Linked DNA regions of Homo sapiens: regions 1, 2, 3 and 4 are each linked to region 5. Evidence: fine-mapped expression QTL. A gene starts in region 5. Each other region holds a variant in brackets. All regions are shown on one strand. Distances are from middle to middle. Region 1 overlaps UPP2 (uridine phosphorylase 2). Region 2 holds the start of LOC105373715 (a long non-coding RNA gene). Region 3 overlaps UPP2 (uridine phosphorylase 2). Region 4 overlaps UPP2 (uridine phosphorylase 2). Region 5 holds the start of PKP4 (plakophilin 4).

The links. PIP is the estimated chance that this variant, and not a neighbour inherited with it, causes the effect.
Region 1: its variant is fine-mapped to the expression of PKP4 in whole blood (TOPMed, PIP above 0.99).
Region 2: its variant is fine-mapped to the expression of PKP4 in monocytes (Quach 2016, PIP 0.95).
Region 3: its variant is fine-mapped to the expression of PKP4 in whole blood (INTERVAL, PIP above 0.99).
Region 4: its variant is fine-mapped to the expression of PKP4 in whole blood (INTERVAL, PIP above 0.99).

Annotation. Positions count from the first base shown.
Region 1 is chr2:158,110,462-158,116,933 of GRCh38, reverse strand. UPP2 (uridine phosphorylase 2) reads right to left here. Exons shown (of 7, transcript NM_173355.4): 3 at 1,675-1,833. Among named protein-coding and RNA genes, the nearest start is that of UPP2, 12 kb to the right of the region's middle. RefSeq lists an enhancer at 2,366-3,565. The variant G/A (reference allele first, on the strand shown) is at 3,021.
Region 2 is chr2:158,574,261-158,580,732 of GRCh38, reverse strand. PKP4 (plakophilin 4) reads right to left here. Exons shown (of 22, transcript NM_003628.6): 3 at 3,350-3,462. It overlaps LOC105373715 (a long non-coding RNA gene), which reads right to left and starts at 3,342. Exons shown (of 2, transcript XR_001739137.2): 1 at 2,470-3,342. The variant A/G (reference allele first, on the strand shown) is at 2,941.
Region 3 is chr2:158,118,417-158,124,888 of GRCh38, reverse strand. UPP2 (uridine phosphorylase 2) reads right to left here. Exons shown (of 7, transcript NM_173355.4): 5 at 3,271-3,480; 6 at 994-1,140. Among named protein-coding and RNA genes, the nearest start is that of UPP2, 20 kb to the right of the region's middle. The variant G/C (reference allele first, on the strand shown) is at 3,223.
Region 4 is chr2:158,130,940-158,137,411 of GRCh38, reverse strand. It overlaps UPP2 (uridine phosphorylase 2), which reads right to left. Exons shown (of 7, transcript NM_173355.4): 7 at 1,258-2,664. The coding sequence ends at 2,522. Among named protein-coding and RNA genes, the nearest start is that of UPP2, 32 kb to the right of the region's middle. The variant G/C (reference allele first, on the strand shown) is at 3,160.
Region 5 is chr2:158,453,495-158,459,966 of GRCh38, reverse strand. PKP4 (plakophilin 4) reads right to left here and starts at 3,015. Exons shown (of 22, transcript NM_003628.6): 1 at 2,749-3,015. It overlaps CCDC148 (coiled-coil domain containing 148), which reads left to right and starts at 3,214. Exons shown (of 14, transcript NM_138803.4): 1 at 3,214-3,552. The coding sequence starts at 3,528. LOC124907900 reads left to right here and starts at 1,833. Exons shown (of 1, transcript XM_047446754.1): 1 at 1,833-2,836. The coding sequence starts at 2,513. The coding sequence ends at 2,836. RefSeq lists an enhancer at 1,656-1,735 and silencers at 2,016-2,235, 2,266-2,325, 2,346-2,395, 2,646-2,695, 2,916-3,285 and 1 more.

The DNA of each region.
Region 1 (6,472 bases), 340 kb after region 5:
CTATGGAAACTTCGAACCTCTGCGTTACCCCTTTCTGGTTCCCATTGCATATGCCCTGACTTTCAAATGTTTAGTAAGCATCCTGGAGCCAGGCATCGAACTTGTATTGATTTGTATATCCAAGATTAACAAGTTTAGGACTTTGGAACTGGCTCTGTGACTAATGAATAAATGCTCTAAGTATTATTTTTTCTTACCTGCAAAATAAGAAGATGAACTATTATTTGATCTATTAGATTCCTTCTAGTTCAGACATTTAGTAAGTTAATGATTGCCACTTATTATGTTACGCATTGATAAAATGACAAATGGACTTGTGCTCTCTTTCACACACACGCACCCCATTCAACCACTACTGGAGAGGAAGAATTTTCAAAGAAGGAATCACATTTGTCAATCCCCTGCCTGCCTAGTAAGGCCCATTTCTAATTGGTAACCTTGGCATCACACATATTTCAGGTCTTTTTCCCAGACAGGACAGGATCAGTCTATTGCTGTTTTCATTTCTTACTGTGAAGTTTTACTGCTTATTTATGGTAGTGTCACATTTTTAAGAAACTTACTTTTTTGTCCTTCTCCATTTACTATACAAAAAACAGTTATAGTCTAAAGGTCCACTAAATGTTGGTAAGAAAAAATTTACCAAGATCAGTGGATATTCAGCTTCCTTCTAATGTAGATATTCTGTAATGGTTTATTGAATGCACAAGTGAATAACTGAATGGACTCTCCCATTTGAGCAGGTTTCAGGCGCTCTTGGCCCAGAGAGGAGAGCAATTTAGCTGCCTTATTGGTGTTGCATAATTTTCCCTTCTTTACCGCAGGTTTTCATCAATGATTGTCCACACTGTAGGGCAATCAATGGATGATGCCTATTCCCTATGGTAGGAGCCACTTACAGCTTAGTTCCTTAGAATTGCCACCCTGTGCAGGAGACTCTTCCCCTGTCCCCTGGCATGCCTGCCTGTGCCTCTTTTGAGGGTTGCAGTGCCCAGAAATGTGATGGCTTCAGAGTTATTGCTTCAGAATACAGCCCTGTGCAGAGAGACAAACATGGGAAGGCAAATGGGATGCCTATGCACATACGCCCTCATCAGTGTGTGCCCAGCTGAGTCCAAGGGGGAAATGGTCTGCATCTTCCCTAAAACTGCAAATCATTCCCCTTTCATTTTGTCTTAGGGCACTGTGTGCTTCCATAACTGTTCACATGTTCTAAATGCAGGAGAGTAATTTACAAGAGCTCAGTAGAAATGCATTAGCAGCTTTTCAGCGAGCTTATTATGGTGTTAAACAGCAGCACTTTAGCAGTCCTGAAAATTAGCCTCTGTGTACTAAAAGCTCAACATTCCCAAAGCTGGGTAAGGGATAGAAGAAGGAAAATTGCCGTGGCGGGGGTGAGGGGTGTTAACCAGTTACAAAGTAAAGAGAAAGGAGGGGTGCTTTGAGTATTTTCCCCCTAATTTGAATACCTAAGTGGTAACTAATAAACAAAAATGATGCTGCATGCTGTGTTCTGCCCTGGGGGCTTTTTCCAATAATGAACTCATACCTGGACACCTTGTTTGATTGTGTAAGAATGCGAAGCTGGAGGGAAAAAGAACTCCTACATGTAAAAGTTCCCACTTTTTTCTCTAGCCTGCAATGACTAGCTGAAATGCAACCATGGATACTTACACTGATGGCGAGCACAGGCCCGGTTTTGTACATACAGTATCTGTCTGTCCCAGCACAGATGTCTTTTATGTCTTCTTCAGCTTCCTCAAACCCGAGCTCCTTGTGCATAAACAGTGCAAATGCTTTCATTCTGTTGGGGCTCCCACCGACACAGACAAACTGTTAATAAAAATAAACAAGGGCCTGCCATAGTAACTGGGATAAGAACCACGGGTCAGTTTCAACTCTAATGTTTTTATTTTACTTTTTAGTTAATTTACTTAAGAACACGTGTAGATGTCATGGTTTATGTTCCATGAATTAGCTAATTTGCATCATCAACCTGTAAATAAAGCAACAGATGCAAAGTTTTTTGCACTAAATTTGTAAAGAAAATCACAAAATCAAAATAAATGTTGATATTATTCAAGGAGGTGTTTCCTGGTGTTTTTGTTTATAGTGAACACCAACCAGCATCTTAAATTGACATAGACAGCCTATTGTTGAGCATTACCATGACATATGCTTAGGATGTAAGTTCTGAGGCCACGGCACGTGAGTGATGTAAGAGCAAAAGGAGAACCACCAGTTTTAGGTATGTTTTCTGATTCCCCATCCCCCATCATAAATTTGTATTGTGAAATGGAGTATGTGAACTTAAAATTTTAAAGGAATCATGTCAAGACTTTTAAATTTCTTATTCAGAAGAAATTCTCATGGAACAAGCCTTATTATTGTAAATGTGGGATCTCCCTGTGGCATTTCATCAATTCCAGTGATTTATTTTTGTTTTTGTTTTATTCACATTTTACCTTCTCTGAAATTAGGATAGGTGTTGCAGTCAACGGTGTCTAATAGAAGATGGTAATACAATTGTCTGGCAGTTACTCATACAACAGTCTGTTTAGGGGTACCCTAGCCCCAGGTACCAGGAGTGGGAGAGGTGGACGCCAGGGAGAGGAGCAGAGAAGCACTACGGGTCAGCAACAAGAGGGTGAGCAGTAGCAGACTCTCACACCCAGGAGGAAGCACAGGCCACAGCAAGGTGGCAAGAGTCAAGTCCTCCCGGATTCTGAAGTAAGTGGTGAGGAAAATGCAGAGAGAGAGAAGACAACATAGTGGAGGGTCTGCCCTTTGAGGTTAGGTAAACCTGGCTTTGAACTCCAACCCCATCAGTGAGTAAGAAACTTGCTCAGTGTCACACAAATAATCGATGTGCCTCAGAACATCTCCAAAATAGGAAAAACACAGTACCTCTCAGAGAGTTTTGAAAGAAGAACGTGAGATTGCATATGGCAAAGGACATTGCACAAGTCCAGACACGTTCTCAGTGATGTGCAAATGGTAACCATTATTTTTTATATCAT[G/A]TAGCAATTTTCTATTCCTGCTTCTGAGCTTGTTACTTTTCCTGTATTGCAGAATTTAGTACACAGGAAGCTGGTTTGAGTCCTCTAGTGAGGAAAAGGCAGTTGGTGGTATCTGGCTGATGTAGGCAGCATTGGACAGAGGACTGGGAGGGCTGACAAGGTCCATCACAGGGATAAAGAATATCTGTCTAACGAAATACCTAACTGAGGTTATAGAATAGGCGGCCCCATTCACAAATGATTTACTCTAACTATTGGGTGGTCTGAGTACATGATGCATCTTGTTTCCATTTAGCAATAATTCCTGAGCTATTCTCTTTCTCAATTAGGGGTGTAATTAACCCTGTATCCACGCCCTCTGCTTCTCTTCTACCCTTAATATTGTCTTTTCTCTGCCTTCTTATGAGTTTCTCTGATGAAGCCTTAAGCTAGTAATGAACTGCAATAGAAGTCTGCCATAAAGACTGGTAGCAAAGAGGTTAAGACCATGGTTTCAGGTGAGTTTTAAACTAGTTATTGATAATTCTTAGAATTTTCTTCTTTGTTGGTATGGATAGTTAAGACTTGGCTCACGATCTAAGTCCAAGGAAATTTTTTAACACAGTACGGTAGTTTGAAAATAACCTCATTGTGTGGTGCCAGTGAATGTAAATTACAACTATTCAGATTGACCATAAAACCAAAACAGATGTTAGAATAGCTTGTGGTTTGAATTCTCCTTTGAACTGTAGATATTGCTATAATCGACAGGAATTTCTGAATATTTCTGGAGACATAAAGATCATATGCACAGACAGAAGCAGCTTGGTTCTTAAAGCCTTCCTTACTCCTAAACCAGACTCACTAAACACCACCTCTGGACACAATTTTCGGTCTGGCTGCTTTAATGAGAAGTAAAATATGGCTGAAGACCACCAACCAACATTGACCTTAAGTGACACTTACTGTGTTTATGTCTCAAACAAAATGATCAATTGTCCTGGTTTTATCAAAGAAGTTAGAAACACACTGGGAAGGAGTCAGAGGCATTACAAAAATATGTTAAGGATTTTGCCTAATGATTGCCAGAAAAAAACTCAGCTTTAGATATCCCTAGCATCTTAAAAGGCTTAACTATGCCATGTTGTATTAATCTGGTCTATTGCATTTTATGCATTTTCTGTGTTAACAAGGGAATATAAATACATTCAAAATGCATTGCATATTACTAAAATTTCTAGTGAGAGATTAGAGGATACCAGTTAGTGATTTTATAAAAGACATATTTAGATGTTGATTTTGAATAGATAACTTCCTTTTTTTTTTAGAGTTCAATTTATTTATTTTTATTTTATTGCTTGTGTTTTGGTATCTTACATAAGAAATCATTTCCTAATCCAAGGTCACAAAGATTTATGTCTATGTTTTCTTCTAACATTTTATAGAATTAAGCCTTACATTTAGGTCTTTCATCCATTTTGAGTTAATTTTTGAATATGGTGTGAGATAGGGATCTAACTTTATTCTTTAGCATGTGGATATCTAGTTGTCCCAGCACCATTTGAAGAGATGATTCTTTTCACAATAAATTGTCTTAGCATGCTTGTTGAAAATCAGTTGTACATAAAGGTGAGAGTTTATTTCTGGTCTCTTGGTTCTGTTCTAGTGATCTTTATGTCTATCCATATGTTAGTACCACACTGTCTTTATCATTATAACTTTGTAATAAGTTTTGAAGTTGGGAAGTGCGAGTCCTCCAACTTTTTTCTCCTTTGTAAAAACTATTTTGGCTATCCTGCATTCCAGGCATTTTGACGTGGATTTTATTAGAAGCTTGTCAAGTTCTGCAAAATAGGCAACTGGAATTTTAATGGGGACTGCATTGAATCTGTAGAATATTTTTGGTAGTATAGTTATCTTAACAATATTAAATCTTGCAATCCATAAGCATAGGATGTCTTCCCATTTACTTAGAGCTTTCAAAATTTCTTTCAATAATGCTTGTTGTTTTCAGAGTATAAGTTTGCACTTCTTTTGTTTATTTGATTCCTGTATATTCCTGTAAGGTCTATATGTCCCACTTCAAGTCGTACAACATTGATTAAAAGTAGATTTTTAAACATTAAATATGTTTACTGTAATCCTTAGAGCAACCACTAAAACAAATAAGCAGAGAAACAAAACTGAAACAAAACAAAGAGATATAGTCAAAATATAACAGATAAATAAAAATGGAATATTTAAAAAATGTTCAACTATCCCAAAAGAAAGCTGGAAAGAGGAATAAAGAAATGGAAAGCAGAGCTTAATACACAGAAATCAAATATAAAATGGTAAACCTAAATCCAAACATATCAATAATTACATTAAATGCAAAGTGTCTAAGCACCCATTTAAGACACAGAGATTTTCAGAATGAATAAACAAACATATGATCCAATTATATGCTGTCTATAATGATAATGATACAGGCAGATTAAAAGTAAAAGAATGGAAAAATATAGACCATGCAAGCTTTAATCTAATGCTGGAATGACTATATTAATATCAAAATAGGCTTCAGAGCAAAGAAAATTACCAGAGACAGAGGGATATTCCATAACCATAAGAGTCAGTTTACCAAGAAGACATAACATTCAAAGTGTATAAAAACTAAAAACAGAGCTTAAAAAATAAAGCAAAAACTGTCAGAAATAAAGTATTAATAAACTCACAAGCATAGTTTGAGACTTCACCTCTCTCAGTAATGCATAGAACTTATGGAAAGGGAATCGGCAAGACTTAAATGTTAGACCTAAAACCATAAAAACCCTAGAAGAAAACCTAGGCAATACCATTTAGGACATAGGCATGGGCAAGGACTTCATGTCTAAAACACTAAAAGCAATGGCAACAAAAGCCAAAATTGACAAATGCGATCTAATTAAACTAAAGAGCTTCTGCACAGCAAAAGAAACTACCATCAGAGTGAACAGGCAACCTCAGAATGGGAGAAAATTTTTGCAATCTACTTATCTGACAAAGGGCTAATATCCAGAATCTGCAAAGAACTCCAGCAAATTTACAAGAAAAAAACAACCCCATCAAGTGGGCGAAGGATATGAACAGACACTTCTCAAAAGAAGACATTTATGCAGCCAAAAAACACATGAAAAAATGCTCATCATCACTGGCCATCAGAGAAATGCAAATCAAAACCACAATGAGATACCATCTCACACCAGTTAGAATGGCAATCATTAAAAAGTCAGGAAACAACAGATGCTGGAGAGGATGTGGAGAAATAGGAACACTTTTACACTGTTGGTGGGACTGTAAACTAGTTCAACCATTGTGGAAGACAGTGTGGCGAGTCCTCAAGGATCTAGAACTAGTCCTCAAGGATCTAGAACTAGAAATATCATTTGACCCAGCCATCCCATTACTGGCTATATACTCAAAGGATTATAAATCATGCTGTTATAAAGACACAT
Region 2 (6,472 bases), 120 kb before region 5:
TCAGAGATCACTGAATGAAGAAACCCACCTTACTCATAACCCTTAAAATTTCATAATAGATTCCTATCTGGCTGCCTGGCCTCTTTATTCTGTTTTACACACTGCACTCTCAAAAAAGGAAAACTTCTAATCACCATCACCACCACCAATAACAACTTTCAGTTGGTCTCCTTTAAAGATCTAATAAAGTTCTTCACAATTAAATGCCAGCTTCACCTTTCCAATTTCATAAGCCAGTAGGTCCTTTTAGGACATATCCTAGACACTGAGCCTCTTACTGCTCGGGACAACTGTTTGTGGGGCCATATATGCATTTGTGCACATTTTCCTCCTTTCCCTGGTCAACCCCACTCCCATTTCTGCATGACCCATTCATTCACCCGACATTCACTGGTGGTGCCACAGTCACTTGCCAGGCACAAATGCCAGGCACTGAGAACCAGACAGGAACCACAAAAAAAGTCACTGACAGAAACTACTACCCACAATATGTACTTTACTTAGAGATTTTAAAAAAACATATGGAACCAGCCAATGAACGATATAGCCTTAAAATTATTTAACATTTTAAAATTCACAAGTCCAGAACATAATCTAATAGCCATGCATATATCAACCACTCCCTCATTTAACAGTTGTTAACATTTTGTTATATTTGCTCCAGATGGCTCTTGAATAAAATGCTACAGATTCTGCAAAAGCCTAATTCCTAGTATCGTCCTCCTTTCTTCCTTTCTAGAGGTTCCACTATCTTAAATTGGTGTCATTCCAAAATATTTTATAATTTTACTCCACATGCACACACTGACAAACAATACCAAGTACTATTTAATTATTATGCAGTATTGCTATATATATAGCAATATATATATAGCTATATATATATATTTTAAATTGCTCATAGATTATATCCTCCTACAGCTATTCTTCTGCAACTTACAGCTTTTCAAGTCTGTTTTGCAAACATGTCCATGTTGATACATGTAGATCTAGTTATTTCATTTTAACTGCTCTAGAGTTTCATTTTAACTGCTTTAGAGTGTACCTATTAACAGTTTATTTTCCATTTCCATTCTAAGGAATAAGTATGTTCTTTGTAATTTTTTACTTTTGCAAATGGTGCTGCAATGAGCATGCTTTGTATCTGTTTTACTGTGCACACCTGTCAGACTTCCTCCAATGGTATCCAGTTCTTGGACTGTGAAACCCTACTCTTTTGCTCACTGATTCTCTCACTCATGGTCAAGTTTTTTTATGATATGTAATTCAATGCTTTTTTTTTTTTTTTACAAAATCAGAACTAATTTGGAAATACATGACGAACAAAGCACAGTGTGAAACTGTCCTTCCTACCCTCTTCAATACATCTTTTCTTATTTCTGTGCTACATTCAGGTGCTGTAATCTCTCGTCTGGATTCCTTAGCTCTAGTGAAGGTATTTGTGTGTGTGAATGGTTGTTCAAATTGAAGTTTCTGTGAGAGGATGGGCACTGACAAGTCCTATTCTGTCATCTTGCTGATGTCATTCATAAATTTGTGTTTTATACTATCTCACTGTGAGCTCATCTTTAGTGGTGCCATTTTCTCACTGGGGACTCCTGAGCAATGTGGATAGTTACATTTGGGCTCCAAACCCACATATGATAGAAGCCTGGGGTTTGCTAATCATGGGGTCCTTTAAAGGACATGGCTTAGTGCAGTGATGTTAAGTTCAAACATACCATCTTGAGCACACACAAAACTTCATTCTTTAGCTCCTCTATGGGTATAAAATCCACCTCTAGTGCTTACTTTGAGGTTTGACAACTGTTCTCACATCTCCTACAGAGGTAGCTCAAGCTTCTGGCTCTGGTTTTCAGTGCTCTTTCTAGTTTCAATATCTGGGGATTTTCCCTCCTCTTGTGCCATTTCCTCTAGGTATTGGTCTTTATTATTGATATACCAAGTATTACTAGGAGTTTATCAAGAGAATTTCTATTTTAATTTAGTTAGTAATATTGCCAGAATAAGAAGTACTAACAGAATTCTGTTAAATGTTGAATTACTTTTCTATTAAAATATAATTCTGGTTAGAAAAACAAAACCAGTTGGTTCATACCTTTTAGAAATATATAATACCATATTATTGAGTTTGTGAGTTGTTCTTTTTGGTGCTAAAGATACGGATAATTTCTAAAAAATATTATAGAGAATTAAAGCTAATTTTTGTTTTCACAGTTTTAACTTAACGAATTATTTCATTGGGTATTGCAAAGTCTGAGTTAGAAATTTCTAATTTATTATTTTATACCTTGCTTATAATTCTCTTTCTATAAAAACCTTCCTGGATATTTATAAAATAATTACATAATCTTATATTTGTTTTGTAAAAGTTTTGACGACCTTTATTTATATACTTTATGCCTTACCAAACATATCAATATACACAACTGTTAAGAGAGATGAAAAATTCATATTACTACAACTTACCAGCCCAATAGTTTAATGTTCATACCAACAATCAGAAACAACAGACAGAATTCTATTCACTAAGAAGTTTTTTTGCCCATGAGTAACACAAGATACTGAAAAGTAGAATAATTATGAGGTTAGAAATAACTGAGAGAAAAGTTATTGCAGGCATGTCTACCTAAGTGTAAGCAGATCAAACTTAAAACTGCAAGCAATGAAAGCATTTTACAGTAGGCTTTACAGAAATATGTAATTATTAAGAAAGAAATCTATAGATAGGATAAGCAGTGATTTAACTATTCGGAACATGTAATTTTTACAGGAATTATGCTTTTAAATAGCATAAGAGGTACTTAAATAAAAAATAACAATCATGATTATGTTTTTACAGTAATGCACTCATTTAGTATTTACTGTATGTGAGTACAGTAAATTATTCCATATAGTAATTAGTTTGTGTGGTAGATTCATAGAGTTCTAGAAAAACCC[A/G]AAGTAAATTGAAGACATTTTTAAAGTTAATGCAATCTTATTTAGAAATATTTCTTAGTTTTAAAAAAATCAATACCAGGTGTTCAAAGCACCAGCCAATTAACTTTACCAAATAATTAGCAATTAATCACGACAACACCCATTAACTGTGTGTACATATGAGGAATCTGAAGGCAGCACAGTAGCTTTTGCTACAGAAGCTTGCCAATGCTATAGAAAACATTTCAAGCACAGGACTGAGGGATTGCAAGAGGCTTCTCAAAATTAGAATAAATGGACATTTTTGGTTTCAAATTCTGGAAGGCAAGTTAACAGTAACAACACTAACAGAATCTTTTGCTGCATAGAGAACAACCTAGTAAGGCATGTAACTTGAGTGTGCATAAAGATGGAGCCATTGGCCCTGTACCTGGTGCTGGCGATGCTTGGTGATTCTGCTCCAAGCCTACATCTTTCTAGCTGACTGGCAACAATCTGCCTTTCCACTTCCAGTTCTCGGGTGAGTCGCTGAAACTGAAGCTCCTGTGATTCAAGAAAATAAAAGGCATATAAGGCGCCAAGGTATGCTGCTCAGGCAGATATATGAATTAATGTATGTCACAGGAAACATAGGAACGTACCCATAACATAAAGCTATGGTGTGGCTTTGTGAAATGCAATTTTTGGATGAAATAAATGACCTATTGATTCCTAGCTTTTTCAAATCTAAAGGCAATAGAATATCAGCCTTTATTTGGCATAAAAACCATGTAGATCTTTATTTGCCTTTTCTGATTTTGGTTCTGAGGTCTTCAAACAGTACTTCTGCTACAGTGCCTTACTAAAGTTAAGGCTTCCAGAGACCTTACTTAATGTATCTACATCAGAGACACAGCAAACAATGGCTAGTTTTTATATTTCTTATACTATATGTCAGCATAGTTTAAAAAAATATAAATCCCCGTGATCAGAATCACTTTACCATGTTTGATATAGTCTTTTAATTAAGAAAAAAAATGATTCCAATGCCACAGAAAAAGTCTTGCCGTATTTATCTATAATATAACCAACAAAAATTTGCTATGTCCAAAAGCAATCATGTGCCACTGTGCAAAGGAGAGAAGGAACACAAGAAGTGAAAAAGACTAAGCCATAACATAGAATTTAAAATATATTCAAAAGCTGGAAGATAGTCTACAGAAATTATATTCTTGAATCTATGCTGCAAAGTGAAGGCAAACAAGTTCTATGAAAGGAGAGAATGTTTTAACTTTATTTGTATTTCTCTCATTGTTAGCTTGATGGGATTTTAGTAAGTAGAAAACATGTCATGTTATAAAATATCTAAAGATCAAGTACATTCCAAAGGTTTTAAGCTACAAATAGCATCTCAAGCTCCCCTGTGCCATACTGTCTCCTCACAAGTCTATTCAAAGCAAATGCTGAACTGTAAGTAGTTTAATTTGATGACTGCTAGTTCAAAATACCAGACATATGAGTATTAAATCTAGAAACTATTCAGAAATAAAACAACCTAAAATATTATTTATGATTATATGTATACATTCGTTTGCCATTAAAAATTTTAATTGAAAAGTATATGAACTCCCTGTGAAATCAGGCAAACATGTAATTGCTTGACAGTACTGGCTCTGCAAATTCCACAAGCTATTCTTGGAATAATTTTTAAGAAACAGTCCCTAAACTCCTTACCATCTTCTGATACTGAGAATCCTTTCCTAATGATCCCAACTGGTGTGGCAGTATTGGACAGGGCCTAGATGAATAATAGCTGGCTCAATAATGCTGTACAATATGATCATAATCGGTAAGTGGGACAATGCCTGCCTCTGCCTAACAATTCCTAGGCTCTTAATAAATGTTCAGTAACAAAAGACTAGATAGACATAAATTGTTCAGCATTCAGTACCAGGCTAAGATAACCAATTTGAAAATACTATTATGCTTACCTCACACTTACTCTTTCTTTGCTCTTAAACAGCATCATTTTGTTTTTTTTGTTATAGACTTCTATTTGTTCACTTCATTTACTCACTTGTCATTATATGCATCTTTTCCCACAAGACTGCCTGGTTGTATCAAGCTGGGCCAGGAAAAGACTACTCAGGAATCCCAAAATATTCCCCAAGCCATCACAATACCTTCGTCCTCTGAGTTCAGTGGCTACTAGGGATTGAGGGCTGGAGTACTGTCCTCATTTTGGGATGGGCAAAAGTTACCATATCAGGTACAGTATGGTATGAAGATACATTGCAAATAAGAACATAGAAAAAAAATTCCATTCATAGAAACAAATTCCATTGTACAGGAATGAATTTTTATCATGTTTGTGGCTGCCTGTGACCTTGTAAACAACCTTTCAAGGAAATGGCTGGGAAAGTTCCTGCTTGAAGGCAGAAGTTGGAATTTCTCATAATTCCTTCCCTCAAAAGCAGAACGGGTGACTTTGGCTCTGCCAAGAAAGTACACTCATGCCAGGTTGTGATGCAGGTGCTGACACTGAGACTCTGACTCCAGCAAAGAGGACACTTGTTTTCTCTCTCTATTGCCTTCTTGCTGTGCTTCCTGCATTAGGTCTCAAGGTCAAGATCCTGACATGGAAACAACCTCCATACACAATTCTGTGTGTTTGGTGGCTATAACAATAGTTTCTTTATCTGATCAACATTGTGGCACAAATTTGGACACCGTTCCTGGAATCTTAGTCTCAAGTCTTGTTCTCCAGTACCTGTAACAAATGTGGGAATTCACTAATAATCCCTTAATGAATTCCTTTTCTGCTTAATTAGCCATGTTAGTTTCTGTATCTTACAACTAGAAACTTTGATTGACGTACCCACAGAAACAATTTACAGTTCTTGAGTTGCTAGGAAAGCCTATACATGCATGATGTAGCTACACTTTTTATTTAAAAGTAGGGCAATTCCTTTAACATTCTTATGGACTGAATTAAGTCCACATTATATCCCTACTGGATGCAGAGCCCATAATACTGAACATCACTGGCTACTTTTATCAAAACCATTCAACCTATTACGTGCCCACAACTTCTCACAAGTAGTACTTCATTAAAGTGCCAAAAGCAGAATATCAAGAAGCTATAAAGCACTGAATTTGTAAAAGTGACTTAACACCTGTAAATGTTTACAAAGAAAAAATATGCTTTCTTGCAAAACTATTACTATTCCTCCTAAGAATACAAGTTGAACACACGCACATGTGAATGGCACCAAGATGTATGAGTGGGATATCAATATTTGATAATTCAGTCTCTACTGGCCTCTTTGACTGACTGATGAGGACAGTATTATGCTGTCATATGAAAACACATCTAATAATTTCCAAAATAACGCTCATTAAGATGATGATGCAGAGACATCATCTATGAAGTTAAAAATTCTTATATTTTATCCTCTAAACAAAAAATGTGAAGAATGGTTCTTAAATCAGTATCCCAAATTGGGAATCTTAATTATAGGGGGAGCTTATATTTGTTCTTTTGTGAGAAGAAAAAAGTTAATGTTAAAAGCAC
Region 3 (6,472 bases), 340 kb after region 5:
TGCTTGCTTGGCCTCCATTTTGATGTCTACTACCCTAATGTCTTCACCCCAATTTCCTCTGTCCCAGTTATGGCAACCTCATGCTTCCAGTAGTTTAGACCATAAACATGGGAGTCATTTTTAACTCCTGCCTTTCTCACCAAATTTACATCAAGTTGTCAGCAAATGTTGTTGGGTTTGTCTTCAAAATGTTTCTACAATCTGACTACTTCTCACTACCTGCGCTGCTATCACTTTGTCCATCAACTCTCACTAGACTACTGCGTTCGCCTTCTCGTTCTTCTCCCTGCTTCTGCCCTTGACCCCATTCGGGTCTTCCCAGCTGAGCCGCCACTGTGATTCTGTTAACACACAGGTCAGATCCAGCCACCTCTCTATTCAGAGCTCTCCAGTGGCTTCTCATTTCACCCAGAGTGAAAGTCATTGTTCTCACAGTGTCCTACACAATCTGTACATCTTCCCTCTCTCCTCCCATTCTCCACCACTGCCTCTCCCCTCCTGATCTCTTCCCTGTTCCTCCAATTCTCCTTGAATGCTCCTGTCTGTGGCCTTGGATTTGCATTGAACAGAATGCTCTTCCCCCAGATATCCAAGTGGCACATTCTTCTCCCATCCTTCCCTGACCATGCTCTTTAAAATTATGATTGATGGACTATTTTAGGAATATTTTGTTTGTATCTTGTCTCAATAAATTCAATTGTAATAGAAACTACTAGCCACCACCAGGATGAAGGAAACTGAACTTGCTGTCAAGCCCTGAACATGTCACCAATTAGCTGTTGAACCCTGAGGTTTAGTTTCCTTATTTGCATAATAAGAATAATGTCCTGGCCACTCACAAGATATTATGAGATAATGTATATTATATACAATTATAAGTCATGCCTTCAGCCCAAGGTAATATATAGCTGGACCTCTTTTTCTTCTCCTAAGGTGTAAAAGTAGCTTCATGAAAGAGGAGAATTTGACCCTAAGCATTCACGAAAAGCTTACCTTTTAGACCACAGAGTCCACACATAGCTGCAAACACTGTAGATTCCATTTCAATATTCCTGACACCAGCTTTAAATGCTCTCTTCAAGTAGTCTAACTTTTTTTCTCTGGAAAAGGAGCACAGTGCTCCATCTAGTCGGCCTTGGCCTGAAAGGGAGGGGAGAACGTTTAGTGACTTGATGTCCCACCCCACTGACAGTGGCCTCATAGGAGGCTTGCTGTTGGCTGGAGCACGCTGCCGCTGTCTAACTCTACAGCGTGCTCCCCGTGTAGGATAAACTGAGCTGTGTGACTCTTCCTACCAGAGGACTGTGGAGCGATGCTGTCCCTAGCTGAGGAGTCTCATACGTAGGAAGGAGCCTTCATGGCCGAGGACCTCAGTTCTGGGGTCAGTAACTGTTGAGTGGCTGCAGCAGCCAGCACTGTGCCCAGGGAAATCAGGAAGCGGGGGGTTGCTGTGAGAGCTGCCCTTTGAGGAAAATCTCAGGTTGCTCCAATGACTGGGGAATGGCCCAGGGATGGGTGCTGGGAGAAAAAAAAAGAGGTTTCGATGATGCTAAGCTACTTGAGGATCAGGACAGTGTTTGGACATTGCGCCTCTCCATATGCCTTTGCGACATTGTCCACCTTCCCCCTTTCCGCACACTTCTCAGGCTGCACGCCACCCCTTGTGATCACATTTTCCTTTCCAGGCTGCTCCCAGTGTTCATTCATCACTGAATTTCAGCTGTATCTACCAGTGCGGACAGAAGCAAGGAAAGGAAACCTTGATGTCATTACTCCTTCCGTACCCTGTGCACACCCAGAAATAGACCTCCTAATGCCTCCTCACTCCTGAGAAGACCTGGATTCAAGCAAGTGGGCTAATAGCACTCTGTTGCCATCCATTATTTTCACAATCCCCTTTTTGGTGCTCTTTCCTCTCTTTTTCTCCCTTTCCTCTATCTCTTTCACGCTACTTTCACCCCTGGCAGTCTGCTTCCCCTTGTTCCTTCTCTTCTCATTAGAGCTGCGTGCCACCACCTCTATTTAAGCTGATTCAAACACAGACATCGCAGAAGCCAAGCAGGTAATGTCGATGCGAGTGTCTGGTCTGAGGGGAGCAGCTTCACCTCACCTTCAGCAAATGTAGCCCCAGATGTGGGTCAGGGCTTGTCAAGGCTGTCATGCATATACTGGTGTACATTTTTAAATGCTAGTTATTTCAAAAAGCCAGAAATGTGGGTGTTAATATAAAATCTCCAGATATTGTAAATGTTGGCAAAATAATTCACATTTTTAAAAATACTGTGCAGGCCAAAGGAAACATTGACTTTAACAAGCTTCCATTTGCAAATTCTGCTTTAACATATCAGTGAGTGACCCTCGAGATGGACTATGAGTCAGTGGCCTTGAACAGAGGGTCCCAACCCTATTGGACCCCAACAGCCCTTCTATTTTACAACAAATATGTGGTGAAACCACCTTTACTAACCGGAAGTAAAATGTATAGATAATATGACCTATCTCCAAACATAATTTTTTAAAATTCAATATATCTTAAGTTTGAGCTAAAGGGAAAATAAAAGTAATTTATAATGAAATAGTATGGATTTTGAAAAGAATAAAACTACTGCCAGATTTTCAGAATGCCCTTCAAGGCATGGTACCAATACTGTGTAGATTCTTTCTTCTGGGACGAGAAAGAATCGGGGGTCTGTCTTTGAAGGTTTCTTCCCCTTGGCCCTTCATCCCTAGTAGCAAGTGCTGCTACATAGCAGTCATCTTCAATTTGTCTCTAAACTTGGTTTGGGGACCCCTTACTCATGGCTGAGAGATAAAAACCCCGCTCTGAGATCATGCCATCCCGTGGGATTTGTACCCCCTCCCCAAGCATTTCTCCCCATTTTCTGGACCACTGTTTCCGGGGGACAGGATCATTTTTGAGGTACAGATGAATGGCAGAAACATAGAATCAGCATACTTCCCTTCTCTTAGAGCTGCTAATTTAAGTTAAAGGCATAAACAGAGATAAGATTCTGTGAACATCACTAATTGCATTTTAGTGTTCAATGTGTTCTTGGAGGATTAAATCCACCCTCAATATAAATTCATTCTGCTGCTCATTATGTCCTTGTGTTTCTATGCTTTAGTAAGTAAAAAAGGCTGTTTCATTTCCTTTTTAACCCACAAATATTAATTTTCTTAAGTAGAGTTGTTAATATAAATTATGGGTTTGAATAACAAAGA[G/C]TTGCTGGCATTTTTCTGTTTCCTTCACAGTTTATAAATTGTTCTCACCTTCATAAAAATCATAGGTACACATTGTATGTCCAACGAGGGTTGGGAAGTTGGGGATTTCTTTGCTACAGTTGAACAGTTCTTCAGACAGTTCTTTGTCCAGTTCAGTACTTCGGGTGACAATGTTGTCCAAAATGACCTGTTCAAACCGGGGCTTAAAGAAGGAGTCTACAGCTATATCCGTTATTACAACAGTCCCTGGTGCAATCCCTGCAATGTGGGAATAAATGATTACAGAAGAATATCGTTTAGAGTTTACTTTTGACACATAGTATGTAACTTATTCTAGTATTAATGCTAGCTGCTAATGAGTCTCCCTGTTTTCAACTTTAAAATTATTTTCTTTTCCAAATGCAATTAAATAACATTCAGAAGAGGCATTTACATTTGTTGTCTTTTCAAATGCACATTTACAATGTGATGGGGTTTAGATTTCAAGACAAACATGACTCTTGGACATGCAAATTAGTGCCAGACTTTGGGCTCAAATTTGAATAAATTAGGTCAGGAAAAAACTAAATAAGCCTGCCAGCAAGTAGCTTTCATAAAGTGATGTGACTTCTTAATATTTAATCTTCTCTGCGACTTCTTGATTACTGTAATTTCTTTGCATCTCTATCCTCTTTTTCTTCTGATTCTTTTCACATTTGTTCTCTCGCCGACTTCATGTAAATCAGGGCTCTTGGCTGACCTTCCATGGCTACAAAGTCTGAGTTGCTCAAGGGACTTGGGCTTACTTAAGAAACTATTTTCTGCCAACTGTTAGTCTCCCTGCCTGCCATGCCATCTCCTCCTCCCCCCACCTTTTCACCACACACCAAGTCACTCTTCAGGTGTCAGCTTAATTTACTTCCTGAAAAAGGTCTGAATCCACAGAAGGGAAGCAAACAAATGAAAAAATTAAAAGGCAACACAGATAGGTTACACTAAATTTCCCCAGGCCCATTTTTGACCCAGCTTTTGACCCAGTCTGGTTTCTATTTAAAGCCTGAATAAGAAGATATATCTTCATAAATGCCCTAGACTCTCTCTGTCCTAACACTTTTTATAATTACCCATTTGTTTATCTTTTTCTCTGATAGAACATAAACTCTATAAAGTCAAGAACTATGTCTGTTCACTGCTCTCTCCTGGTCTAGCTCTGTGCCTGCCACATTATAGGTACTCAATAAAAATTTGTCAAATGAGTGAATGTTTTCACAAAGATGCCATAGATTATAGCTCCGCAAGCCTATGGTTCATAAACCAAATCCTGTCTTTGTAAATAAAGTTTTATTAGTCACACAGCCACACCCATTTATTTACATATTGTCTATAGCTGCTTTCAAGCTCTAGAGGCAGAGTTGAGAAGTTGCAATAGAAATCACACAGTCAGCAAATCCTAAAATATGTACTGTCTTGTCCTTTACAGAAAAAGCTTGACAATCCTTTCTATAGAGTATAGACTTATCCTTCAGGGTGGCATAAATTTTGATATTGATCAAAGTAGACTTAATTACAAAATGCTTTAGAAGATCCAACTAGAGACCCAAGGTGGCCACTGATAATAGAGCCTTGTTGGGTGAAATATTTTTTTTTAATTTATTTTTATTTTTATTTTTTTTTTTTGAGATGAGGTCTTGCTCTGTCACCCAGGCTGTAATGTAGTGGGGTGATCTCAGCTCACTGCAGTCTCTGCCTCCAGGGTTCAAGCAATTCTCCTGCCTCAGCCTCCAGAATAGCTAGGACTACAGGCACATACACCCACACCTAACTAATTTTTTGTATTTTTAGTAGAGATGGGGTTTCACCACATTGGCCAGGCTGGTCTCAAACTCCTGGCCTCAAGTGATCCACTGCCTCGGCCTCCCAAAGTACTGGGATTATAAATGTGAGCCACCATGCCTGGCCAGATAGTTTTTAAACAATCCAAGTAAGTGGCTCCTTGAATTGTTCACAATGTCCTAAGAAAGTGATTGAGAGGGAAGTTGAAAATATATACATAAAAATGATGTTATTTATATGCCATCTTAATATTTAAATGTGTTAGTGTATTATGTCATGGTTAAGGTTTCTCAAAGGTCAACATACTATTTAACTGAGTAGTTTATGCTTGTTAAGGTGTGTTGGCTCATGTAGGAAGGGATCATGTGAGCGACAATACTGTGTACATCTTTCATCTCCAAACGCAATACTGCTTAAAAGAAAATAAGCAAATACATCTTTTTGGTAAGCTAAGAGTTCTTAATGAGGATAAAACTTCAAAATGAAGGTGTCCACACCAGTACAGTGGGTTAATTTGCCACCATCCATGGGCCTTCATTGTGTGCTATATGTATCGTGTTGCCATGAAATAAAATACCCTAATCAAGAGCTGGATGATCATTGGAGCACCTTGCCCATGCTGGTGTTTGTTAATATCAAGTGGTAACTGTAGCAGTCAGGACTTTACAATGCATGAATGTTGGCTATGAAGGCAGATCCTTGTAACCCACAACCCAAGAATTATGAGCAACTTTAATAGCTATGTTATCTGAAATTCATGCCCAAATGAGCAGTTCCCTACTACTGATTATTTGGGGTATTGTTGGATAAACTACAATCTAGAAGGATGCCTGATCTGACACTTATTGCTAGCACTCTACTTCTCTCTATGGATGAACATCCACAAAGGTCCTACTTTCTCCCAGATGTAAGGGCCTTGGCTGGACTTTATTCCTGGACCACGGCTGTGGAAAGCCATCATCTTTTCCAACATGTCTGATTTCTAGTGAAGCATGGCTCAGCCATGGTGGCTTTGTGATGTTGAACACACCACTTCTCCACCTACTTGTGTGAGGATTTCTGACATCCCTTTTTGCTCCATAAATGTCTAATTCTACCACCATTTCTCTTCCCAAATCTCAGCCCTTTTTATAATGCCCATTCAGTTCTATCGCCCTGTCAACCAAACTTCTCCATTTGCCATGTGCAGTCTGTATTTGCACTTTGGTGACATGGTAAAATCATACCCTGACAAGATGTGCTCCTTAAGAAAAAGCTGAAAGTTTTGAGGAAACCTCAAAACTTCATCATAACACATTCTGGAAGCAAAACCAAGGCCTCTATACAGCTGACTGACAGGCCTAAGAAGAAGGGAGGTTGGGAGGCTCTGTGAAAACTATAGGAAGCATCACTTAAGCCTTCCCTGAAAGCCTGGCCTGGTTTCTTTCTAGTGTACTGA
Region 4 (6,472 bases), 320 kb after region 5:
GACATAGTTGCAAGCTGCATACTTTGAAGAAGTAGTCGAGGGGGCTCTGGAGGGGGACTACAGGTGAGCATGGAAGGAATCTGGTTTGAGGATTAGAAAGACTTTCTAAGGGAAGGGATCTCTGAGTTGAGATTTAAACCATGAGCATGAGTTAAGCGAGGGCCCTTCAGGGAGAGTAGACAGCAAAAGGCTCTGAAATGGGAAGGGACATTGGCACTAAGAGTTCCCACTATCCCATATAACACCATTGTATAAATCAGGAAAAGGCCCCTCTCAGTCACTGTGGCTCAGGGTGGACTGAGATTCACCCTGTCCAGGTCTCACAGCTAGCTGGACAGGGTGGATCTCAGTCCCACTTGTCCCCGCAGCTAAGCACCCCCATTGGATGGATCTGTTGGCAGTCCTTCCCAAGGGATTGTGCCTTTGTGAATTTGTGCCTTGGGTAAGACTGAAGGACCAAGGGTGATGTGCCTGGAGGGCAGACACAAGGGGAAGAAGTGGGTGAGGTGAGCTGGGCTACCAAGCTGGGCCCAGTCAGGAATGCCTAAGCTGCACAGAGGGCTTTGGTCTTCATTCTAAGACCAATGTGAAGGCTTTGAAGCAGGAAAATAACCCAATCAAACTTCAAGAATGGAGGCAGGGTGATCAGGAGTGAGGCTTCCTCAGTGACCTGGAGGAGAGATCATGGTGGCCTGGACTAGGATGGGTGCCAAAAAGATGGAAGGAAATGAACAGACTGGGGAAATATTTAGGAGGATCAATTAATAAGACTTAGTGATTGACTGGCTGTGGAAATTAAGGAGAAAGAATCATCACAGGGGTTTCCCAGGTTTCTGGCTTGTGCAAGTGATATGGTTTACTGAGATAGAAAATACCAGTGAGGAAGACACAGACATAAATGCATGCATGCATGCACCTGTGCGCACACACTCCTTGCAGGAGTTGAAGAGAAGATTAACTGTAATTATTTCATTCTTCTCCCTCTCATAGCCTCTCCTTCTCCGTGTAAAAAAAAAAAAAAAAAGATTGTCCAGGAGCAGGCAGATAAAAGTTCAAACTGAAGCCTCTCTGAGGTGGTTTTCACTACATGGTCTAAAAAAATATGAAACAAAGTAAAAATCCCATCAGAAAATGACGGCAATGCTATTCTAGCTTGCTTTTAGCTCTGATCTTTGAATTTGATGGTCAATTATTGAGATACCCTAAAAATGGCACTTAAAGTGTCTCTAGTGCCAAAAAGAAGTTCACAAACCAATGTACCTCTTGGGGGATTGTTTATTGGTGATGATAAATACCTCTTGTTTATTGTCATTGCTTGAAAGAGAAAGACATTCCCCACCCAGGAGCAGGCCAATTCAGACTCAACCGGCCTAGGACCTATTTCCTGCCCCAAGCCTCCATTCGGTCATGTGTGACAATGGCTCTGGGATCCAAATAATCTGTACTGTGTTGGAATTAAACTTTATTTGAGCCACAACCATATAAATAATATGTACACAACATTACATACTATACAAGTGTGCCAGTCATCCTCTACCCATCCCCCATCCAGTCATTCCGACTCCCAAGTATGTCAAATTGAGAAGAACCCAAGATGCGATCAGTTCACAGAGAGCATGTGCAGCCAGGAGGAGCACCATGCCTCCCAGAGAATCAAACGGGTAGGGCAATAGGCCGGTCTGGACAAGTCATACAAAAGGATTCCTTTAACATCTTGAACTCAAGTCTTAATTCAATTGCTATGAATTTCTCAGCCTATTTGGTTAATATTGAAATGGAATAAAAAATACAGCCTCCTCAAAACACTTTTTTTACAAGAAAAAATGGCTAGAAGGCAATTTAGTCACTTGTGATTCTGAAGAAAAAGGAAGGCCTTTCTTTGCATTACTGAGGGTTTTCAGTTGAGAGGAAAATGTAATCCAGAGTTGTTATATTCTGAGATAAAATCACAAACAGGCATATGTAAATCTCGAATCCTATTCTGTGGTGCACTGAAATAGTGCAGGGGTAAAAAAGCAGTATGGCCATATTTTCCTAATGGTAACTTTTCCATATAGACCTACATTTCACTGACACTTTTTTCTGTAAATATTTTGAATATGGATGATCAGTTTCTGTCACTTGTCCAATACCTAGAAGTGCCTGACAATGTTCTAACATGAATTTCTGGATTGGTTTCAGAAACAGAGTGACTGGTAACTATGTGCAAATGGCTGGTCTATTTTGATGTGAGCTTAATTAATGCTGCATATGAAACTCCAAATGTCATAATCCAGGAGTTTTAAAATTTTAATTATTAGACTGATTTAGTTAACTTATTCTAAAATGAAATTTGAATTTAATTTAGTGTGAGTATTCTTTTACAATAAATTCCTTTTTAAGAGAGAAGGATTTCATAAAGTCTTTCCATTTAGCATGTGGATGAGAACTATATAAAAATGCCACAAATAAAATATGACTTTCACATTACAACTTGAGCTACAAACTTGCAGGGGAGGGTTGGGCTGCCCAGTTAGGACGTCTAGTCACAAAGTCCAAGCCGCCGTCTGATGAAGTTGGAGATTAGGAGCTGAGGCCGTTGCTGGTACTCCACCAGGACATCATGAGGCAAGTTGATCTGATCACAGTCGAGTCTGTCGAGAAGTGTCACACAGACCACAGCAGCTAGAAGAGCAATTAGCACAACTGATGGAATGAATGGGTTCATCTTTTCTATAGAAGCATTAGCCAAACACACCAGCATCCCTAGCACATGTACTTTTGTGTATTTTTGTTGTTGTTGTTGTAATGTAGATGCAACCTACTGAACCTTCTGGTCTTCAATATTTTTGTGGAATCCCACCAAACACTTCATTTAAATAAGTTAACTAAAATTGTTGTGAACACTCCTCCTTCCTCTTTTCCTCCACAATTGACTAGATTAAGGCTCAGGAAAGCATCATGTTCAAGATAAAGGAGAAAGCTTTGCAATCTGAGATATGCCATCTCCTGCTTTCTATCCTATTTCCAGTTCTTAGAGGAGGGTCTTTTACGGGAGGATATAACTGGAGAACTAGCCGTAATTCCCAAGGTGACATTTTTCTCCTTGGTGCAATGGTTGAGTTTGCCTGCTGCATTGCAGCCCTTGCTGAAGAAAAAAGTAAATACAGAAGAGATATA[G/C]AACGCTGACCTCAGGAAATACCAATAAACGTGAGTACTGGCTCTCATGAAATTTGAGAGGAAAAAACATGATATGAAATGCTTAAATGTAAGAAGCAGCACCATGAAAGAGGAAATGTATTAGCATTTGATTTCTAAAGAATGAGAATGAAATCTTATAGGAAACTGGAGGAAAAAAAACAAAAGTCTTTTTTAAAAAATGAAACTCTTATTTTTGAAAAGTTGTCACAAGGGCAATGTCTTTGGTTTCATCAGCAAGAAAAATTGAGTTCCATATGAATTCTTTATTGTCAGTTTCATATCAAATCTTTGATTTCAAGGAATGTGGTTACCCACATTGAAATCAGTGTTAGCCACTTTGAATTGCTAACGGTGTAATAATCTCCATCTGAATCTGCATCATTTAAAAAAGGATTTCAGTACATATGTGATTGGATTGGATGTGTCTGTATTAACAAACTTGGAAGGCATGGAGAGAGTTGGGCATGAGGGTAGTGTTTATTTCTTTGACCTCTCTGCTACTCCAGACTTCTTTGTAAGATCTAGATTTGGGAAGAAGTAGTATACTGTAATTATAATAGTACATGCTATCTTTATTTTTAAATGACAAATAGTAATTATATATAATTATGAGGTACAATGTGATGTTTTGATATATGTATACATTGTGAAATGATTAAATTAGCCTAATTCACATATCTATCATCTCTTATACTTGCATTTTTATGGTGAAAACAATTAAAATCTACTCTCTTAAAGATTTTTCACTATACGTTATTACAAACTCTCATCACTATGCTATGCAATAGATCTCTCGAGCTTAATCCTCCTTGTAACTGAAATTTTGCACCCTTCGACCAGTTTCTCTCCGTTCCCCATCCTGCTCCCCTATACTCTGGTAACCACCATTCTACTCTCTACTTCCATGAGTTTGATTTTTCTAGATTCCACATATAAGTAAAATCATACAGTATTTGTCTATCTGTGCCTGGCTTATTTCACTTAACAAAATGGCCTCCAAATTCATCCATGTTGTTGCAAATGAGAGAATTTCCTTCTTTTTAAAGGCTAAGTAGTATTTCATTGTGTATATATACCACATTTTAAAAGTCTATTCATCTGTTGATGGACACTTGGTTGATTCCATATCTTGGCTGTTGTGAATAATGCTGCAACAAACTTGGGAGAGCAGATGTCTGTTTACAGCACACTGATACCAGTTCCTTCAGATATGTACCAGAGGTGGGATTGCTAGCTTATATGGGAATTCTTAGTTTTTTGAAGAACCACCATACTGTTTTTCATAATTGATGTACTAATTTACATTCCCATCAACAGTATTCAAGGGTTCTCTTTTCTCCACATCCTGCCAACACTTTTTATCTTTCGTCTTTTTTGATTATGGCCATTCTAGCAGGTGTGAAGCGACACCTCGCCATTGTTTTAATTTGCATTTCCCTGATGACTAGTGAGGTTGAGTGTTTTTTTTAATATATCTGTTGGCCTTTTGTATGTCTTCTTTTAGAACCTATTCAGATCCTTTGCCCATTTCTTAATTTGTTTTCTTGCTATTGAGTTGTTTGAGTTCCTTGTATGTTCTGTGTATTACCTCTTATCAGATGTATCAGTTTAGAAATGTTTTCTCCATGCGTTTCTCCACATTTCTCCAATCCATGTATCTTTTTTGTTTGACTTAGTTATTGCTACATGCCAAGCATTTATGATATCACTTAATCCTTTACAGCTATTCCTTGAGCTAGGATTATTTTTGTCCTCTTTCGACAGATGATTAAATGAGGGCTTAGAATGATCAACCAAATGGCCCAGTATTACACAGCTGGTCAGAGCCAATCAACTCCTAGCTTCCTAAACTGATGAGAGAAGAGTTCTCTACCTTCCATCCACTCCTCCCCTGAGCTAGCACATGGTGAACCATTAGGCAATCCTGCCCTATCGGTTATACTGACCCATCGGTCAGACTGACCCTCTTGTTCAGTGACGTGAAAAGCAATGAAAATATTCAACTTGAGCTGCGGCAAATATTTCATCACCTAGGACCCTATTTATTCAAAACTCAGTCAGTTGTAAAGCAACTTGGCTGTACAGGTAAACAAGCAAATGGAAGAGCTAGAAACTTCCCACAGCTTTTCAAGTTAATGATCAGCAAATCTGTGAAGCCTGACATGGGCTGGCAGTCGCACAGAAAAGTTGAAAGTCCTTCTCTAATCCTTCACTTTGGCAGAAGGATAAAAGGAAACCAGTGCTCTATACTTTTTACAGAGTGGGAACCGACTTTACTAAATGTCTTTTCTGGATTTCAAGGGGAATGCCAAAGATAGAAAAGAACAGGTTATAGCAATCTCAGTGGTGTTTTCTTGACCCTGGAGAATCCACTAGCGAGCAGCATATAATAATCTTGTCACTTAAAATTACTATTTCCATGAGCAATTAAAAGGGACTAATTACCCAAAACAATTTGCTGAAATTAAGCCTGACAGCTTTGCTAGCAAAATCCTCAGATTAGGCAGGGAGGGTGGCTGCTGGGGAGGAAGAGATACTTAGTGACCCAGCTGCCACCAAGGAGATTGTCAGTGAACTGACCTGAGGCTAGAATGTTCTGGGAACACACAGACCTGAACATGGAGCTTGGATGCACCCTGAGCTGAACTAGGACTGCCCAGTAATTGTCAACCCTTTGGGAACATTTATGGCTGCTTTGAAAATCTGATGAAAGTCCTAATTGGAACCTCTTTTCACACAAAAATACACATCTGCCAATACACACAAAATATTTGTGTATAACTTCAGGGGTCCCAGGGCCCCTGAAAATTCACTCATGAATCCTTAGGAATCCACGCACCCCTATGGACCACCACTTTAACCCCACCTCTCTGATTCAGAATGAACTTTCAACAAGGTTTTCCCATGAACAGTGGGCAAAGATAGCAGGGCTGGGCACAAATGCCCATTGCACAGCAGAAGTCAAACAGGGCTGGTCTTTGGAAAAAGGAAAAGCAGCAAAGATTAGCTTTGGAGTTCCCAGCCTGGCCTTTCTTCTACCTCTTCCTGGTTATGTTCATACCCTCCCCCATTGCTCCTCAAGGGTTTGAGTTTATTAAGCAAACACTACCTTTGCTCCCTATATGCCTGGTATGTAAAGCACAGGAAATGTTTTTTAATCAACAACCCAGAGTCTTTGCACTTCCTGTATCTCCGCTGAAACATTAATCTCAGGCTATTGGCTGCTTATTAAAAACAAGGTGGGGAAAATTTGTATTCAAAGGGGCTGGTCAATGGTAAGAGACATAGAAAC
Region 5 (6,472 bases):
CAATTTCGGTTATTTTCAATTGTGTAGGATCACTAGTTGAAAAACTTCCACTCTTTGAATATCTGTAACAAATAGAAAGCATTTCTAACTGAAAGGTTACCTTTACCTGAAGCAGGCAAAACTATCTGCACAGCCAATCGTGTGTGTGTGTGTCGTGTGTGTGTGTGTGTGTGTGTGATCCATACATCTGAACAGGGTTTTCAATTTCTAATGCGGCAGGGAAACTAAATTTGCTTTTACTTCCCAATCTTGACATCAAGTCAAAAAAGCACGGGTTAAGCATGGGTTAAACACTGCTGTAATATGATACTGTTACATAATAAAAGTTTCCTGTTGGCATTTACAAACACCTCCCAATATCCTCCACAGTGTTACTGGACACAAATTAAACCTCTAAATTAGAAGATTCACTGATTATGCACATAGCTGAAAAACAACGTAGCAACCAAAACATAAACGTTTCTGAGTGCAAAATATTTTTTTCTATTTTTTTTCCTTTCTGTTGAGTCCTTAACTAAAGGCTCCTATTTAATAGTTTTCAATGTCCATGATCTACACAAAGTAGGTGTTGGAAGAAAGCTGATTGGTCAGACAACTGACTTATTATTTTACTGAATCTGACATAAAATAACCAGGTGCAAAGAGGTTTATCATAAATGCAACCTGCAAAGCAAATTGTGTCAAATAAAAACACACATATGATGCTTTTCAACACCCAGAAACACTTATTTCAGACATTAGTTGTTCTCGTTTTCATGTTGCCATTTTCCATAACTGTTTCACAGGCACCAAAACGAAGATACTCCTACAGCAATATACTGCATTCAAGAAGAGAAGCATTCTTCTAGTTTCTCTTTAAAAATAAAAAGAATCTAAGCTCAATTCTAGCGAACCATTTTCTGTCAAAATTTTGCTCTCCCGTATTAAGGAAAACAAAATTTGACCAAAAATGCATACTAGCCATCATTGATTTTACACGTAAATAATTACCGTTCTTTAAAACTTGTAGGGCAGCATTTATTTTTTTTTTTCAGTCAAACTCAGTAACAAAGAGAAAAAACTGAGACCTCCACTAATAAATTACATCTTGAAATATACATGATTGTGGTGTCCCCGTGTTACTTTCAATGGTAACTGACACGTCCCGAATTTAACTGTACCAGACAGTTCTATCTGTCCCATCGCTGACCGAACAGTGCTTCTCTGTTTCTATTCATTATGTATTATACGAGGTCTAAACACAGCCCAGTATGACGAGGGAAAAAAATTACACTTCTTAGGATACCAAAGTGATGCATTCAAGATCTCTCTCGCAGTACATGCCCGTGAGCACTAACAGGCATTTTTTGATAGAGCTAAAATATGTTGGCTGCAAGCTCATTACTCTAACAACCTTCAGGCCCCCTGTTTCTGCTGGTTTTCAGAAAACCCTAGTGAAAACCAGGCACTATCCAAACCTTGCACACCAAACTTGCCAACAGCCCTGTGCAATGATCAATAACCTTGGCTACACAGTCATCGGCCCCAAATTCACGGTCCTGAAGACCAATGCAGCAAAAACCCAGACGAAAGGCTAGCTGGAGCCCCAAAGAATTACCGCGCTTCCCCTCTGCCGCATGGAGGGAAGCTATGGGAGGAGAGGAGTGGAATGAGGCTCACCAGCTCCGAAGATGCTCCGGTGACCTCTGGCTGCGCGGCGAGAGCTGGGGAGGGAAGGCGCTAGGGCAGCCGCGGCGGGCTGTGTGGACTCTGCCCCTGGTGCATTCCTCGCATTCCTGCACAATCTGTCGCCAGCCCAGGAGCCGGCAGCGCGCGTCCCCCGCTGTACACACACACCTGACTACCGCTGCGCCCCGAGCGGCCACGGCCGCCGCGGCACCTCCACTGCCCGCGCTCGCGGTGTGTCGCACTCAGCCAACACGCAGCCAAATCCCGGCCCCGCCGCTCGCTCTCCGGGTAGCGGTCCAGGGGAGAGGGCCGGCAGCCTCGGCAGCGGGCGGGGATACCAGATCCGCCAGGGAGGTGCCGCAGCTCCGCTTCAACTCCTGGCAGGGAGAGGAGGAAGCGGCGGCGCAGGAGGGCAGCGGCGAGGCTCGGCGCTGGGGAGCCGGGAGGGGTGGAGCGTGAGGATCCGCGGCCGGTAGAGAGGGGCGCACTAGGCAGAGGGGTGGGCAGGACCGGCAAGGAGTACAGGACTTCGGGGACAAACGCAAGACCGCGCGGGCAGCAGGGGCGTGGGAAGACGGGGAGGGGACCAAGGTGCAGGATCTGGGGCTAGAAGGACAGACAGCCGGCCCCGAGTGCTGAGGAGGGCGGGCGCCCAGTGGTGTCGAGGGCGACTTGGGGCGCGCGGCGGCAGGCAGCGGGGAAGCCGCCGCGAGGGCGTCCAGCAGGGCTCAGCGCGGCGCTCAAGTTCGGGGCTGGGAGCTCTGAATCCGAACAGCCCAGCGTGGGCAGAGGTCGTGCGCTGCGCGTACGGGAGACCGGGGAGAGGAATCGCCGGGAAAAGCAAATGGAGGGTGAAACTTGTGCGCCTGCCGGGGGGAGGGGAGCAGCAGGCGAGTGCGGGCAGGAACACGAGGCGGGGCAGGAAAGCCGCGGCGGCCGCGAGGCGCTGGGGACGCGGCAGCGGGAGGGAGGCCCCCGGCCCCCGGCGCGCAGGTCCTGGCCCTGGCGCGTGTTCGGGGCGAGGGCCGAGGGTCTCGTGGGCAGGAGTCTCCGCGCCCTCCCGCGAGCCCACACACTTACTTTCCAGCTTAGGCAGCGGCCGTCGTCGCTCCAGGGATCAGGGACATCGGCGCCGAGGGGTCGCCGCTGCGGCACCCGAAAAAATTAAAAAAGTGCCGCGGCGGCGCGGCTGCCCGCCCCTCCCTCCCCCACCGGCCCCCGCCCCCGGAGCGGCTCTCCCACCACCCCCGGCGGCGGCGGTGGCCAACTTGCCCCTCTACCCCTTGCCCATGGTGCCGCCTCCGCGGCCGGCGTCGACGCGGACTCAGCCCCGGAGCCCCCTCTACTGCCCAGAGGCCGCCGCCGCCGCCCGCCCCGCTGCCAGCCCTCCCGCCCGGCCAGCCCCGGGCTCCCGGGAACGTCAGCACGCCGCCGTCCCCGGGCCAGCTCCCGCCACCCCATTGGCGGGAAGGAGAGGGCTGGCCCTCCCCATTGGCCCGGCCCTCATATTGAACAGGCCAATGGGAGCTGCGGTTTCAGGTCGCCATAGAGACCGATGCTGTTCAGCGCGAGAGGGCCTGGAGAGGGTGGGTGTGAGAGAGAAGGTGTCTCAGGTCTCGGGCGCGGGAGGGGGTGGCGGAGAGGACAGGGAGATTCCCCAGCGCTGGCTCTGAAATCTGGGGCAGGCTTTCCTTGCCTTACTGCCAATCCCAACTGTGCCTGGTAGGGTTTGTCCCTGGCGTCAAAGGTAGGAACAGCTGAGCCCTTAGATGTACCCCTGACGGCGAGAGCCCAGGAGTGGGCGTTTCACTTTTCCTGCGTTTGGGGAGTCCCTGAGGCTATGCCCTTTGACCTTTGACATGTGTGCAGCTTCTGCTTCTCCAGGTGAGTTTGCACCCCATCCCTTCCATCGCTGCTTCCTCCTGACGTCACTGAGCCACCTAAATCCTACTTATGTTTGTTCTCTGCAGCCACTCCCCCTTCCCTGGGGTGGATCTTTCCTCAACGTTTTGGGTCCTCAAACTCATAACTCTTCTGAAAGACTCAAAGAGGATTTCCTTTGAGGATATTTTGGTAAGGGAACGAGGTGGCGGATTGTATGATAGATGCCAAAGCGTCAACACATGAGCTAGCCTGTTCCCTGATTCTCAAAGCAAACCTCTAATCTCCCTGTGGGCAGATATTTATTAAACACATCTGTGTGTACATCCCGCACTATGAGCTTGACAGGTGCATGTTCTTTCACTTGAGAGGTTACAGGCTTGTTAAAGATAGAGGAAACAGAAACAATCCTTCACACCTTGTGATGATTTCACAAAAGAGTAAGGGAAATGGATTACAGTTGATGGATTTTGTTTTCTATTTTCCAGTATCTCTTTAAATTTGATATGGAAATAACCTGAGGCATGAAATCAGTACACGCAAAAATCTTGAGCTTTAATAATGTCTTCTACTTTCATTTAAAATCATTTTGTGGTGGTTTATCAATACTAATTGTTTTTTGTCAATAAATTTTATGTTTAGATATCACCTTCTTAAAGTGAGATTTCATGAACATATTAGGCTTTAAAAGATGATATTGCTCTAGCCTATAGCCACTGATATTCTTACATTCTTTTGGCGATTTTACTTTTTTTAGACTAATCTCTTTAGTAAGGAGACTATGTTACTACCCCTCAAATTGGAGGGACCATATTGTGTGAAAAAGCTGATAGGATTTTGGAAATTACAAATATTTTGTTGGGAGAAACAGGTTAATGTGTGTGCAAGCTGCATATGTCTAAGTATTGTTCTGAATTTTAAGTTGGGTGATATGCTTTGCTACTGGTTTTTATCTTACTATAATTGAAGATTACAAAGATGTAACCTAAGAAATGTTAATATGGTGCCTTGATTGGAAAAAAAAAAACCTCTCCACATTTGTAGTAAAATGTGAACTCAGTTGACAGTCCTACACAGGGTAGGACTGTGGAACAAAACAGGTGAACGTGTGTATGTTCCCCCTAAATATTTTCAGAATTGAGAAGGGATCAGCAGGGGCCAGGAAGTGCTGTGCCATGGCTGGCCATCATGGAAATAGGCTGTTTTTTACTTCTTCCGGCTTTTTAATGTGTGTTTTTGTTTATAGAACAGAAAAAGTAAACCACAAATTGTTATATGAGACACATGTTTAATGAAAAGATACCAATGATTTTGCTTCTTTTAAATTTCAATAACATCAAATGAATGAAAGTTGTGTCTAATGGAAAGAAAAAATGGGTCTTTTCTCTTGCCTTAGGCTAGCATAGAAAGAAGAAAATAAAAGATTATTACTCCAATAATCTTTTTGTGTGGGTGTTTTTCTCAGATGACTATTTTGATATTGTAGATTTCGTGTTTGTCATAATTAAAATGTTACTGAAATCCACCATGAATAATGTCCCCTGAAATAAGTTGCCACTCAACATTAATTTTTTTGTTTATTTTTGTATTTAGTTGAAAGGTTTCTTTTGAACTTGCTCCTGCGCTACTAAGCATTGCTAGACAAGGTTAAAGAATCACTTCATTCCACTAAAAGTTCATGCTATTCAGACTTGGCTGTGTCTTCACTGATTCTCAGTTCCTTTCCTCATCAGGAGGATGATTATCTGGAACACTTATCCAGGAACATTATCCAGGCCACTTCCAAACCTGTCCAATGTCTGCTCTCCTGAAGCCCCCACTTTACGTGGTTTTCCTGCACTTCTGCAAATGATCTTGCCTCGTACTCTACTGAAGGATCCACCATGAGGTTCCTCAACTTAACTTTCTTAAACCTCAGTCCTAGTTTTCACACATCTTCACCTCCTTCAGTCATGGCTGAGAAGGGTGACCACATTTCTCTTCAAGGCTCATACTCCACTTATGCTCCTAAACATGAGCCATCTTCTCTCTACCAGGATTTTGCTCTATTGATTATAATTTCTCTCTTACATGATGTGTTACACCCTCTCCTCCAAAGATTTTTCCTAAGCCTTCCAAATATCTGGCTTTTGGTAAAACCACCTTCCTTCTACCCTACCACCATCTCTATCTATTGGCCTTTCTTTTCACCAAGAAACTGTCTGAAGGGAATTTCTTGAGGTTTCTACTTTGTTGCCAATGTTTTGGCCCTTGAATACCACTGAAATGATTTTGAAGATTGTGCTCTTTGTCCTCAAAATCCTAGCTTATTTTGCCAATTAAGTTCTCTCCTACAAAAATGTCCTTTGCCTCCAAGTTGGAATGGCCCAATTCCAGATTTCCAGTGAAGGAATGAAACCACTGTTACCTAGCCTGAGGATCCACAGAAATGCAAATGACTGGCTTGAGAAGAGGATGATTTAAACTGCTAGCCTGGCCACCTTGGGAAAAGTGCTGGAAAGTAGGGGTGGGGAGAGGGCCTGTGCTCAGGCTGACACTGGGGCCCAGGGCAAGGTTAGAATATTAGGAGGTCTGGTGACTCCACCCTCAAGAACGAAAGTAAACAGCAGAAATCCAAACAACTTTTCAATTACCAGCTCAGAAAGAAGTCTACCTGAAACTTTTAAGATTACGAAAACTTTGTAACTTTCCAATGTTTATTTTTTTCATATTATCCCCTAAAGATTAGTGGTAAATTCCCTAAGAAGCATAGCAGAGGCAGCAAGGAATAGGAGGAAGCAGGAGCACTGAGTCTCTTGTCATACCTGGGTGTCTATGGAGGAGTGGGGGAGGTGAAGATAAAATCTTCAAAAAGTACGCCAATACTGATAATTTTGGGGTTTTCTTTTTAAAGAGGAATGTTAAAACAGAGGTGGGTGGCAAA